2 linked regions of the Homo sapiens genome follow. The protein of the gene in region 1 interacts with the protein of each later gene in a pairwise test. Each region holds a gene or a part of one and is shown on either strand. Other genes may lie near its edges. The genes, in order: MAP2K5 and TERT.

Region 1 (3,808 bases):
CAGTCACATGCATTTGACGTCTGGTCCTTGAGGGACCATCAATACTTCCTAAGACAACACTTCAAAATATTTCCACTGAAGTAAGCAGTGCATTCATAAATTTCATTTAAACAAAGTGGCTAGCCAAGGAATCAGAGACAAACATCAACTCTTATCTCTAACCTTAACATCTGCCTCACTCCTCAATTGACTTCTCAAACTTTTATAACTGGAGATGTAAACAGCAGTCAAAAAACCCAGTAACCTCATATTTCCTAAAGTTATCGGGTCAGGAATTACTATAAAGCTAGTCAATGTTCACACTTATTAATATTTAACATATCTTTTAACAATGTAGAGGACTTAGCCATGACCTGGGAGTTACTATCCAAGGCAACTGTGCTACTTGGAATGAGGAGAACATGTTATTACATCAGAATTATGGCCAGGCATGGTGGCTCATGCCTTTCATCCCAGCACTTGGAGAAGTGGTGGTGGGAGGATTGCTTGAGCTCAGGAGTTTGACACCAGCCTGGGCAACACTGTGATACCTTGTCGCTATTAAAAAATTAAAAAAAAATGCCCAGCGTGGTGGCACATGCCTGTAGCCCCAGCTACTCAGGAGCTGAGGCGAGAGAACTGCTCCAGCCTGGGGACATAAAGGCTGCAGTGAGCACACACTGCACTCCAGCCTGGGTGATAGAGTGAGACTCTGTCTCCAAAATAAATAAATAAATAAATAAATAAGGAAACAATCATTTTCTCCTATCCTTCCTACTTGTTCAGTCTAAAGATTCTTTTTAACATGGGGCCTAACCATAAAATTTAAGATCTGAGGGCCTCTAACCAACTAGGTAGACACAGGAAATATACCCAGTATGTCTACATGTCGATTATGTAAATTTGCATAATTTCACTTATCTACATATGATAAAATGTACATTCGATGTAGACAGGTAGCAAAAAGCAAAAGACTACCAAAAACTAGAAACAATTACACCATAGCATATTAAAAAAACACAGAAATAAAAAGACAGTCTCATATTCTGAAATATTTAAATTTGGCTTAGAAAGACTATGTTTAACAATTTATTGCAGCCTAGTGGGTTTTATGCTAAGACTACATATGACAATGACATCTCATATAATTTCCTCCTTTAAGTATCCTCTCCCCATAACATACTCCTCTCCACTCCAAAACAAGCCCTCCAAACTACTCCCATGCACACTCTAATTATATTTTAATATATATGCCTTTCCATTTTAATCATATTATAATTTAAATGAAATTCTTACTCAAAGGGCATAGTAAGCACTTATAAGCTGTGTGACTCTGAAGTTACTTAACCTCTCTGAATCTCAATATTCTCATCTATAAATTGGAAACAGTAATACCTAATAGGCAGAACTATCAGGAGGATTACAGATGATGATGCGTAAAGCAATATTAATGCCTTAACAGAGCAGACATCTAAAAATGGTTGTGATTATCATGGGAAGAAGCATAATGCGATGAACAGTGAGAATGACAGGACTGCTCACAAAAGGAAAGAAAACAAACAAAACTTGAAAGAATTTGGATGAAGATAACTAAAAAAAATTTTTTAGAGACAAATGAAGACCCACAACATTGGAAGTGTGTGTGTGTGTGTGTGTGTGTGTGTGTGTTTTGAGACAATGTATTGCTCTGTCACTCAGGCTGGAGTACAGTGGCACAAACATGGCTCACTGTAGCCTCAACCTCTTGGGCTCAAGCCATCCTCCCACCTCAGCCCACCAAGTAGCTGGGACAACAGGAGTGTGCACCACGCCCGGCTAATTTTTGTATTTTTTTGGTAGAGACAGGGTTTTGACATGTTGCCCAAGCTGGTCTCAAACTCTTGAGCTCAAGCAATCCACCTGCCTCAGCTTCCCAAAGTGCTGAGATTACAGGCATGAACCACTGTGCCCTGCCTGGAAGTATATTTCTCCAGGATACTGCAATTAGGGTTTTCTATGGCAGAGCTATAATGTCAATAGAGAAATTAATGGAAATTTTCAGTTTGTAAAATACTACTCCTTGTGAAGAAAGAATTTTGAAACTTGCCCAAATTCTCCAGTCACTGCAAACATTAAGAAATAATCTGCCTCCTGGCTGGGCGTGGTGGCTCACGCCTGTAATCCCAGCACTTTGGGAGGCCGAGGGGAGTGGATCATGAGGTCAGGAGATCAAGACCATCCTGGCCAACATGGTAAAACCCTGTCTCTGCTAAAAATACAAAAATTAGCTGGGTGTGGTGACACGAGCCTGTAATCCCAGCTACTCAGGAGGCTGAGGCAGGAGAATCACTTGAACCAGGGAGTCAGAGGTTGCGGTGAGCTGAGATTGCACCACTGCACTCCAGCCTGGTGGCAGAGCGAGACTCTGTCTCGAAAAAAAAAAAAAAAAAAAAGAAATCATCTACATCCTAATCATTGGACTAATAAACAGAAATAGCAACATTTCTTTTTTTCTGTTTTGGTGCTTAATCTTCAAGTACAACAGAAGTGGATTAATCACAATCCTTGTTTTGGACTATCACTGGCCTTAAATAGCCCAACTGTACTTACTTAGCACTTCAATAAGTTACTAGTAATATACTAAGCACTCCTGATTCTGCTGCCCACACATATGCTGGAAGAGCAGTATTATTCTTGAACCCAGATCTTCTTGTGGGTTGGCCAAGACAGCTGCCTTTGGAGACTTTATCAGTGCAAATAGGAGCCTACTGGTTAATTGAGCCATTCAAACTTCAGAGAGTTACAGGTAATGAAAGTCTAGAATGTTTAATTGGAAAACTCATACCATGATTATTTGTACAGTATCAGTTAACGAAGGTAAGTTTAACTTTTAATTATTTCAATTAAGTTATTTCTAGAAGGGTTACTTAGAGAATTTCCTTATCTGTTCCATTAGTTAGAAAACATGGATTCCAAGTGGGGCAATGTATAACGGGTGAAAGACTTAATGGTTTATATAATTAAACTGTTCTTGTTCACCATTATTCAAATTTTGAGGGAACATTTATACACGGTTGAACAATCATATCTGATACAAGGATAGTACTGCCAAACCTAAAAGGGAAAAAGAAAATTATCTGACCAAGTGATTCACTGAAACTTACTCTCATCAGCTCATATTTTTGGAGATAATCAAATTTCCATTTATGAAGAATTTCAATTATTTAGAAAATACCTCCTCAAAAAACCAGATACCAAACATTCCACCAAAATTTCTCTCCTAACACCTCAGTAAATCTTCGCTTCTGTGCTAACTGAAAGCTTTCTCCTCAATAGCAGCTTTGGCCACCATCATGAGCCACAATTTATAAATATCCAGAATTAAAGTCATTCATTTGCCTTGCTTTAGAAACCATGTGGACCCCCAAAAGAGTTCTTTAAGCTAATGTAAGTATGTACTTCAAAAACAAAAAACAATCTAGTTAGTTTAATTTACTCTAGTAAATTAGATATTTTATCTGCCATAACTATAATATAGCCTGCAATCCCCACGATAATGAATACTTCTTTTGTTTTTCGAATTAAGAGCTAAACATCATGTTATGTGCATTTAAACCTTTGGAAACATAACTGTTGATGAAACAGTTTACTGAAATAATCATTGTTGATTAGAATTTGCTCAACATTACCTCTTGGAAATATCTGCAGAGGCTCTATTAACTGTCCATTTACTTGCTGTTCCATTACTGTGGAATAATACTGCAAAGAGATTATAGAAAGAGATCACTCAGTAATGTATGAATACTGGAACAGACACTTATGGGTTGTTTAATTCACAGTACTTTTGTAA
Region 2 (3,808 bases), on another chromosome or scaffold:
AACGTCAGAGGTAAATCAGTGAAATTCAAAACTAAGACCCAAGAGGGAAGTCTGACGAAGGCTGGCGGAGACACCGGCCCTCCACGTGGGTCTCAGAGCAGGAGACAGACAGAGACACTCCAACCTGTGGCTGGACGTCAATCCATGTGAGGGGGCGACTGGAGGCAGAGCCCAGCCTAAGCAATGAGCGGCAGGTGCCCAGAATAAGGTGACAAGCGTTGCCACCCACCCAAGGGGGCCAAGCAGAGGGGCAGCTTGGGAGAAAACAGGACAAGTGAGGGGGCTGGGGTGACTTGCTTTCCTTCAGGGCACAGAGAACCCTTTCTGGGATGTCTCCAGCAACACGTGGCAGCAGACACAGGCAGCCCAGAGTCCAGCCTCGGCATGAGACAAGCTGGGAGAGGAGTATTGGCAGCATGCATGTGGCGGGCACGTGGTGAGCAAGCCAGGCCCAACAGAGGCAAGCGGACCTGAAGCTGTGGCTGCAGTGCCTGGCACGCGGGAGGCGAGAGCCTGCAGTCCCGTGTCCCCGTAGCAAAATGGAACGGAGAGGTGACCAAGAAGAGCCGAGCATCAGAAAAGATAGGCTTGGGGACCAGCACTGCGCCTGCACCATCTACCCAGGCAATGGGCAACCGGCGCAGCTGTGGCTATAGAAAGAGCAAACATTCAGGAGCAAGCTCAAGTGAGCAAACGCCAAGGACACCTGGGGACAGAGCCTCACTCACCCTACACGAGACAGGGACACCCAGGGACAGCGCCTCACTCACCCTGCACCTGAGAGGGACACCCGGGGGCCGCAACTCACTCACCCTACACGTGACAGGGACACCCGGGGACGGCGCCTCACTCACCCTACACGTGACAGGGACACCCGGGGATGGCGCCTCACTCACCCTACACCTGAGAGGGACACCCAGGGACGGCGCCTCACTCACCCTACACGTGACAGAGACACCCGGGGACAGTGCCTCACTCACCCTACACGTGACAGGGACACCCGGGGACGGGGCCTCACTCACCCTGCACGTGACAGGGACACCCGGGGACGGCGCCTCACTCACCCTACACGTGACAGGGACACCCGGGGACGGCGCCTCACTCACCCTACACGTGACAGGGACACCCGGGGACGGCGCCTCACTCACCCTACACGTGACAGGGACACCCGGGGACGGCGCCTCACTCACCCTACACGTGACAGGGACACCCGGGGACGGCGCCTCACTCACCCTGCACGTGACAGGGACACGCGGGGACGGCGCCTCACTCACCCTGCACGTGACAGGGACACCCGGGGGCCTCGCGTCAATCACCCTGCACGTGACAGGGACACCCGGGGACGGCGCCTCACTCACCCTGCACGTGACAGGGACACCCGGGGACAGTGCCTCATTCACCCTACACGTGACAGGGACACCCGGGGACCGCGCCTCACTCACCCTGAACGTGACAGGGACACCCGGGGACAGTGCCTCACTCACCCTGCAAGTGACAGGGACACCCGGGGGCCGCGCCTCACTCACCCTGCACGTGACAGGGACACCCGGGGGCCGTGCCTCACTCACCCTGCACGTGACAGGGACACCCGGGGGCCGCGCCTCACTCACCCTGCACGTGACAGGGACACCCGGGGGCCGCGCCTCACTCACCCTGCACGTGACAGGGACACCCGGGGGCCGCGCCTCACTCACCCTACACGTGACAGGGACACCCGGGGGCCGCGCCTCACTCACCCTGCACGTGACAGGGACACCCGGGGGCCGCGCCTCACTCACCCTACACGTGACAGGGACACCCGGGGACAGTGCCTCACTCACCCTACACGTGACAGTGACACCCGGGGACCGCGCCTCACTCACCCTACACGTGACAGGGACACCCGGGGGCCGTGCCTCACTCACCCTGAACGTGACAGGGACACCCGGGGACGGCGCCTCACTCACCCTACACGTGACAGGGACACCCGGGGACGGCACCTCACTCACCCTACACGTGACAGGGACACCCGGGGACGGCGCCTCACTCACCCTGCACGTGACAGGGACACGCGGGGACGGCGCCTCACTCACCCTGCACGTGACAGGGACACCCGGGGGCCTCGCGTCAATCACCCTGCACGTGACAGGGACACCCGGGGACAGCGCCTCACTCACCCTGCACGTGACAGGGACACCCGGGGACGGTGCCTCACTCACCCTACACGTGACAGGGACACCCGGGGACCGCGCCTCACTCACCCTGAACGTGACAGGGACACCCGGGGACAGTGCCTCACTCACCCTACACGGGACAGGGACACCCGGGGACCGTGCCTCACTCACCCTGCACGTGACAGGGACACCCGGGGACCGCGCCTCACTCACCCTGCACGTGACAGGGACACCCGGGGACCGCGCCTCACTCACCCTGCACGTGACAGGGACACCCGGGGACCGCGCCTCACTCACCCTGCACGTGACAGGGACACCCGGGGGCCGCGCCTCACTCACCCTGCACGTGACAGGGACACCCGGGGGCCGCGCCTCACTCACCCTGCACGTGACAGGGACACCCGGGGGCCGTGCCTCACTCACCCTGCACGTGACAGGGACACCCGGGGACGGCGCCTCACTCACCCTGCACGGGACAGGGACACCTGGGGACCGCGCCTCACTCACCCTGCACGGGACAGGGACACCCGGGGACAGTGCCTCACTCACCCTACACGTGACAGGGACACCTGGGGACCGCGCCTCACTCACCCTGCACGTGACAGGGACACCCGGGGACAGTGCCTCACTCACCCTATACCTGGGAGGGACACCCAGGGACGGTGCCTCACTCACCCTACACGTGACAGGGACACCTGGGGCCGCGCCTCACTCACCCTACACCTGAGAGGGACACCCGGGGACAGCGCCTCACTCACCCTACACCTGGGAGGGACACCCAGGGACGGTGCCTCACTCACCCTACACGTGACAGGGACACCCGGGGACCGCGCCTCACTCACCCTGCACGTGACAGGGACACCCGGGGACAGCGCCTCACTCACCCTGCACGGGACAGGGACACCCGGGGACCACGCCTCACTCACCCTACACGTGACAGGGACACCCGGGGACGGCGCCTCACTCACCCTACACCTGAGAGGGACACCCGGGGACAGTGCCTCACTCACCCTACACGTGACAGGGACACCCGGGGACCGCGCCTCACTCACCCTGCACGTGACAGGGACACCCGGGGACAGTGCCTCACTCACCCTGCACGGGACAGGGACACCCGGGGGCCACACCTCAATCACGCTGCACGGGACAGGGACACCCGGGGGCCGCGCCTCACTCACCCTACACGTGACAGGGACACCTGGGGGCAACGCCTCACTCACCCTGCACGTGACAGGGACACCCGGGGACCACGCCTCACTCCCTGCATAAGCCAGGGGCAGATTGTGACCTCATCTGAAGTCAGAGAACAGCAATGACAGGCAGAGTCCTGATCAGAGAACTCAAACTCTCCTCAACGAAGGAAGCTGGAGCACAAAAAGCAAAACTGGGTTGCATGACGCTTATCTGACTCGGCGTGGTCCACCTGAGCCGCAGCAGGTGTGAGGCAGCTGCCGTTCGATGGGTAGGGACTTCCAGTCACGCAAGACGCAGCATTTCAAGCAACCTGCTGTAAACACCGCCGAGTTAGCAATTCTGCACTGTACACAGAAAACGGTGTTAGGAGTGCCAATCTCATGTTATATGACTTTTGCCACCATAAAAAGAAAAAAAGAAAAAAAAGAGCCCCAAGAAGGTCACCCTCCTTGTCTGCATGG

The links.
Region 2: the proteins of MAP2K5 (region 1) and TERT come close enough for resonance energy transfer, tested with the Homo sapiens proteins (one large-scale study listed by BioGRID).

The regions. Positions count from the first base shown.
Region 1 is NC_000015.10:67,580,663-67,584,470, reverse strand, and holds part of MAP2K5 (dual specificity mitogen-activated protein kinase kinase 5), read right to left. Parts: intron 3,718-3,808; coding exon 3,648-3,717; intron 1-3,647. UniProt on the Homo sapiens protein: Acts as a scaffold for the formation of a ternary MAP3K2/MAP3K3-MAP3K5-MAPK7 signaling complex.
Region 2 is NC_000005.10:1,288,370-1,292,177, forward strand, and holds part of TERT (telomerase reverse transcriptase), read right to left. Parts: intron 1-3,808. UniProt on the Homo sapiens protein: Telomerase is a ribonucleoprotein enzyme essential for the replication of chromosome termini in most eukaryotes. Active in progenitor and cancer cells. Inactive, or very low activity, in normal somatic cells.